Linked DNA regions of Homo sapiens. The protein of the gene in region 2 interacts with the protein of the main gene of each other region in a pairwise test. Each region holds a gene or a part of one and is shown on either strand. Other genes may lie near its edges.

Evidence for each region. Proteins that work in one complex are often made in the same cells at the same time.
Region 1: the proteins of ARID1B (region 2) and SMAD9 interact in a two-hybrid assay, tested with the Homo sapiens proteins (one large-scale study listed by BioGRID and IntAct).

Annotation. Positions count from the first base shown.
Region 1 is NC_000013.11:36,878,739-36,882,238, forward strand, and holds part of SMAD9 (mothers against decapentaplegic homolog 9), read right to left. Parts: intron 2,040-3,500; exon of another isoform or gene 1,551-2,039; intron 1,138-1,550; 5' UTR 952-1,137; coding exon 540-951; intron 1-539. UniProt on the Homo sapiens protein: Transcriptional modulator activated by BMP (bone morphogenetic proteins) type 1 receptor kinase. SMAD9 is a receptor-regulated SMAD (R-SMAD).
Region 2 is NC_000006.12:157,200,378-157,203,877, forward strand, and holds part of ARID1B (AT-rich interactive domain-containing protein 1B), read left to right. Parts: intron 1-327; coding exon 328-1,111; intron 1,112-3,488; coding exon 3,489-3,500. UniProt on the Homo sapiens protein: Involved in transcriptional activation and repression of select genes by chromatin remodeling (alteration of DNA-nucleosome topology).

The sequences.
Region 1 (3,500 bases), on a different chromosome or scaffold from region 2:
CGGGGGGAGGAGGATGTTTAATTTTTACAGCTCATCATTATCAAGGCCATTTTAAAACCTTTCAGGACCCCAAGAACTGGTAAAAGATTATGTTGACTTGTCCCAGATACCTCAAAATAAAACTTTTATGGCAGTTTTCTCCGATTAGCCATCTGCCTCATTTTCAAAATCACACAAAGCTTACCAGCATAATGAAATCAAATGAAAATATCTTCTTTCTAGATTTTCCTGACTAGTTTATCTTCATTCCTTCACACTGGCTATAACAGGGTTTTACTGCGATTCTCTTTGGATTGAGTGTTCCTGTGGCATTCCAGGCAGGAATATCGTTTTCATGGGAACTTTCTTTGATTGGACAGCTGCCTCATTCCGGGAAACAAAATTTTGGACGAGTCCCTCAAAACTGAACCTCCCTCTCCTCTCTTCTCTCTCTCTCTTTTGGGAGAGGTCCCTGTCTGCTGGTGCCCCATCATTCTCCATCAATGGGGCACACGACCTTCACTCTGAAAATAAACCTTGACGTCGTAAAGACGACCCACCTGGAGTCTCCACCCGGCGGTAGTGGTAAGGGTTAATGCACACTTCTTTCTGCTTGGAGCCAAATGGGAACTCACAGCACTCCAGCGGCTTCAGCTCGTGGTGGGACTGCAGATCCGGCCAGCGCCACACGCGACAGTAAATCACATGGGGCAGGCCCTTGCGGTGGGACACCTGCAGCCGCCCGTCCAGGGAGCGGGGAATCGTGACGCATTTGCTGGGCTGCCCCGGGCAGCTGAGAGCCCTCTCCAGCTCGTCCATGGCTCCCTTCTTCTTCTTTAACTTCTTCACTAGAGAGTCCACTGCCTTCTCTGCCCACTTTTCCTCTTCATCTCCTTGCTTCCAGCCTAGCAGTCTCTTCACTGCGGGGCTGGTGAAGGAGAAGAGGGAGCTGATGGGGGTGGTGGAGTGCATAAGAGGCCACAGCAGGCTCCGGCGCGCACGGGAACCGCACAGCCCTTCACGGCAAAGTGGGCGGCGAGTAGCTCTCCAGGGGTGGCATAGGGACCAACCCGCCCGTTCTTCTGGGAGCAGCTGGGACCAATTCAAGTTGCGAAGTGTGTTGACTTTCTCCTAAGCCCTTGAACAGGGTGGCCAACTCTGGAAAACACGACAAGACTTCAATTAGCTTAATCGGAGTAACATTCAGAAAAAGTTGAAGTTGGATAGAAAGAGGCAATCTACACCTACAGTCCCAGCTACTCAAGTGGGTGAATGGCTCGAGCCCAGGAGGTCAAGGCTGCGCCACTGCACTCCAGCCTGAGCAACAGAACCAGGCCCCAAAGTTGGATAGAAGGGAAAAAACATTCTTCAAATGTTTTAATTTTAAAACTGTTGTCTTTGACTCTGCCCTCTCCTGTATTTCCTATATCCAGGTCTCAGGTCATTCTGCCCTCAAAGTCTTTGGAGTTTGTCCTTTCTCTCCATTTCTGCCAACACCTGAGGTCTGACTCACCACACCACTTCTCTGAAGTAGCATCTCTCTTTCTCTCTTTCAATTCGAATTCACTTACTCCCAAACACAGCTCTTATCATTTTCCCATTTAAGAAATGACAGTGGCTCCTTGGTCTCCCAAGTGTAAACTCCTCTGCCTGGGTTTTTCCAGGGCCTCCATAATCTGCCCTCAACATGAGTATGTTCTTTCTTTCTCATTTTTAGTTTGCACAAGCAATCCATCTTCTTGTAGAAAATAAATACTAATGAAAAGAAAAGAAAAAAAGAATCGTGAATAATCTCACCACTCCTGGACAGCCATTCTTAACATAGTCTTCCAAACTACTTTTCAGGACAGTGGCTCTCAAAGTGTGCCCCAAGGATCCCTGGGAGTCCCCTGAGATCCTTTTAAGGGGACTATGAGGTTCTCTCTTTTCCAATTACTTATTTGTGTGAACTAACTTCGCTTCACATACTTCAACCAAAACAACATAACACAATAGAGTATATGGAGAAAAGATGACAATCTAGGTGCCATTTATTAAGCCAAGTATTAAATAGATTTGCAGTAATATAAAACAATAATACTCTTCTCAATAACTTTTTTGAAAACAATGTTTTAAATAAAAATATTTTATGTTAATACAGTTTTTTTAATGATTCAATCAATATTTTTTTAATTTCTTAGTTTCAATTTTTAAAATGGTAAAAATTGATAGATACAGCCTACAGAAGCAAGAGTTCTTTGGAGTTCTCAATAATTTTTAAAAGTGGAAATTTTCAAGACCCAAATGCATGAGAACTGCTTTTCTAGAAATTATACACTATCACACACCAATACATACACAAAAAAGCACAGCTGTCACATTTGTTATTTGGCCTAAAATCAGCTTAATTCTTCTTTGCCCTGTCATCCACAGGAGATGTTCTTTCCCAGTTATTCAGCAGTCTCATTTAAATTTCCTGAGGTCGAACTGTATTTCCTCTTCTGTGAAATAGTTGGCTTAAACAAAACCTCCTCCTCCTTCCAGATTTTAGAAACCAGCTACCTCATTAATGTTTAAAGTGGCTGGCTGGTAACATTTTGGAGTAAGCTGACTCAAGTATTTTGGGATCTTGGAATCGATGTAGCTTATAATCTCCAACAATTGTTTGTTTAATATGCATTAAATATAATTTTCTCCTTTGCTTCCCTGGAGGGCAAGCTGTACCTTTCTGAGTCCAATTCTATAAACTTCTTTCGAACAAAGGTGCCTTATAACCCCCCGCTAGGGTGATCATTATCGGGCACCTCAGGTGAGGAGGATGGCAGCATGGTCCCACAATAACGGATGAGATTTAATAAGTATAAAGCAATAGTCACATCACTTTATTCCTCATCTGGGCTTTATCTGGCATTGTACAGAGATAAACTATGACAAAAGGGAGAGTTGAGAGCTCCATAGCTGCTCTTTTCGCTTGGCAGTTTGACTTACACTCAGTTTTATTTGGAAAGGTTGATTTTGTGGCTTAACAATCATGAATTTATAAAGTATAGTTAAGTCATTGTGTTCAAGTTCTGTTTACTTAATCTAGTCAGGCTGCCTTAAAGCAATGGCTGAAGAGGGTTAGAAGCTTTAAGGAGAAGTCTCATGATAGAATAACCTGAACCCCAAAAGAGTTGTGAATTCTGCTTAGTTTTACATGGAACTCATTATTAGTAAGTTGTGGTATAGATCTTTAAGCTGAGGTCAGTCATAGAGAAAAGCTTTTTATAAAAACACTCAGCGAGTTAAACCAAATACACCTTTTAGAAACTTTTGCTCCATGAAACAACAGTTCCCTAAACCAGGTTTTGTTTGGTTCGTTTTTTTAAACTGTGGGTTTCTATTTACCAATGGCATGTGAAATCAATGAATTGGAACAAAACAGCTTTTGCACAAACAACAAAACAAAACAGACTTTATTGCAGAGCAGCTGACGAAAAATAAGTATAATAATAATCATTTCATGAAAAATTTTCATTCACAGGTATGTGCTGTGTGTGTGT
Region 2 (3,500 bases):
CTCCCAGCCCGGGAGCCGTCTGCCTGTGTGGGAGTTGAACGCTGGCTGTCCCGGTGGCACAGCCTAAGGAGAGGAGGCTTTTTTTTTTCCACAGGAAGTTTCAAACACGTGAAAACAAACTTTGGATGCTCTCTCCTCAGTGTGTGACATGGTGTATATAATACTGAAATATTGAACATAAATTGTTAGTTCTCTGTTGTTATAGGAGCTTCCCATATTCATTTTGAAATGAACATTCTAGCAGGTAATAACTATTTTGCATAATTTCAGTGTGTGATTATACCTGTAAGAGCACATCAGGATGATTTGTCTTTCTGTGAATTCCAGAATTACAAACGCCATATGGACGGCATGTACGGGCCCCCAGCCAAGCGCCACGAGGGCGACATGTACAACATGCAGTACAGCAGCCAGCAGCAGGAGATGTACAACCAGTATGGAGGCTCCTACTCGGGCCCGGACCGCAGGCCCATCCAGGGCCAGTACCCGTATCCCTACAGCAGGGAGAGGATGCAGGGCCCGGGGCAGATCCAGACACACGGAATCCCGCCTCAGATGATGGGCGGCCCGCTGCAGTCGTCCTCCAGTGAGGGGCCTCAGCAGAATATGTGGGCAGCACGCAATGATATGCCTTATCCCTACCAGAACAGGCAGGGCCCTGGCGGCCCTACACAGGCGCCCCCTTACCCAGGCATGAACCGCACAGACGATATGATGGTACCCGATCAGAGGATAAATCATGAGAGCCAGTGGCCTTCTCACGTCAGCCAGCGTCAGCCTTATATGTCGTCCTCAGCCTCCATGCAGCCCATCACACGCCCACCACAGCCGTCCTACCAGACGCCACCGTCACTGCCAAATCACATCTCCAGGGCGCCCAGCCCAGCGTCCTTCCAGCGCTCCCTGGAGAACCGCATGTCTCCAAGCAAGTCTCCTTTTCTGCCGTCTATGAAGATGCAGAAGGTCATGCCCACGGTCCCCACATCCCAGGTCACCGGGCCACCACCCCAACCACCCCCAATCAGAAGGGAGATCACCTTTCCTCCTGGCTCAGTAGAAGCATCACAACCAGTCTTGAAACAAAGGCGAAAGATTACCTCCAAAGATATCGGTAAGAATTCCAAAGCTTTCATTCTGAAATGAATTCCAGTTGCAGTGTAGAATTTTAATTTTAGTAAAGATGCTGTTCCTGCTCATCTTAAAGGGATGAAAAAATTATGACTAGAAGTTATCAAGATGCGTTTTTATATAGGAGTAATATAGTTGGAGGCTGCTAATCTGAATTAAGAAATAGTGCCAGAAAGATTGGCCGGGCGCGGTGGCTCATGCCTGTAATACCAGCACTTTGGGAGGCCCAGGCGGGTGGATCACGAGGTCACGAGATCGAGACCATCCTGGATAACACGGTGAAATAAAATGGTAGTTTTACGTGTGAATGTTATTTGTGTGAAAGATTAGAGCTTCAAGTAAGAGATCAGGGAATCCTGAGTGGTTATATGCTGTATTTTGGGCTTAAAGATTTGAACTTAACCAAGCCACTTAATCACTACAATACGTGCCTAACAGACCCCCCCATGAGGCTAATGAAATGCTAAAGGTGACCTGAGAAAATCTGAAGGCAAGCCACTCTGTAATTTGGTGACAACATACAGTGAATTTCCGTGGGAAAAAGTTAAAGCTTGTATGTAATATGTAGATTGATAGATGGTATGACATAAAGAATATGCTATGCTGTGATACATAGAACTGATATCATCCAATGCACTGGTAGACTTGGGCCAAGAACCATGTCAATCGAATGCTGATGTTGCTTGTTTATCCTCTGTGGGATGTTCTGAATACTAATCAGAGGTCTGGACTATCTGGAAGTACACACAGGGTTTCTGCATTATTTTTGAAGTACTTTTAACACAGGAAGGAAGATAATAGATCTGAGTTATATTAGGAAAAATTACTCAAAAAATATCAAGAACAAATTGACTTAAAATCTTTTTCAGTGATTAGAAAATTAAAGATATTAATAATTTGAAAGACATCAATCACTGGACATTAAGGAGATGTAGATTGAGAGACCAGGGCAGGAGAATCACTTGAACTCAGGAATTCGAGACCACCCTTGGACAACCTAGCAAAACCTCGTCTCTACTAAAAAGAAAAAAAATTAGCCAAAAGTGAGATTCATTTCTGTAGTCCCAGCTATTCAGGAGGCTGAGGTAGGAGGATCACTTGAGCCCAGGAGATCAAGGCTTCAGCAGTGACTGTGCCACTGTATACACACACACACACACACATATTCCTTTATATATATCTATCCATTTATATATAATGCATGTGTATCTATATCCCTTTATATATATATATAGATAGATATAAATATAGATATATAGATATATATAGAATATGTGTGTGTGTGTATTTATATGGGGTTGCAGAGGGAGAGAAGGAGACACAGACACTGAGCACCATTTTATATATAGAAATATATACACACACACACACGTGTATTGTGTGTTTATGTGTGTATATGTATGTTTAAATAAATACATCTAAATTTTCTAAAAATCTCCCAGTGCGGGTTATATAGCATTTGTCTTCAACCTAGGGAAATTTACATGTTTATTTTTAAAAGTAATTTTGATTTTTTTATTGTAAAAACAGTATGTAGCTATCTTAGAAAATTTTAAAACAGATAAAATAAAAGTGGAAAAGCCACGGTGTCTCCCCCTCATGCAATGATTCTTGGTGCCTGGAGAATGCCCCCAGCCTCCAGGCAGCTCCAGGGATCTGGCCGAGCTGGGTCTCATGGCAAATCTTCCAAACTTTCTACCTGATCATTTTGTTTCCTTCAGTAGCAGGAATAGGGAAAACAACAAATTACTTCCCATTCTGTGGCTCCAGCCATACTCCTGAGAAATCTGAGCCATCAAAGTGCTAATATTTATCACAGCATGTTCTGAGGGCAGGAGCACAGGACTAGAGGAAAGCAGCCTGGGAAGCCAAGGCCGTGTGTCTGAGGAGGCTGTCTTGGAGTTAAATTTTGCTTCCATGTTCTGCATACTTGGCGGCCTTCCAGGACGCCACCTTGAGACACTCGTGAGTGGTGAAGCCAAAAGAAGACAAATACCACTTTTGGGTTTGACTCATTTATTAAAAGCTCTGATACCACATTGCAGACTCTGTAGGGTGGCTGAAAGAAATAACCCGGCCATGAGAAAGGACCATCTGTGCTCAACCACTCCACCTCCAGAAGCACTTTCGGCCCCTGCGTGACCAACAAAGCGAGATCTGAAACCACAAAAGTTTCTCGTTACAGCTATGGCCTCCATTTAAAATCGGAAATGATCACGCTTAACTGTCCTTGAGAGCATTTGTTTAAAGTCAATATTTAACTTAACACTCCACTTATTTTTTCTTACTCTTTCGTTAACTTTCGTTCTTTCATGCATAGAGTCAACATTCATGATATCCTTGTTCTTCCCCATCTTCAGTTACTCCTGAGG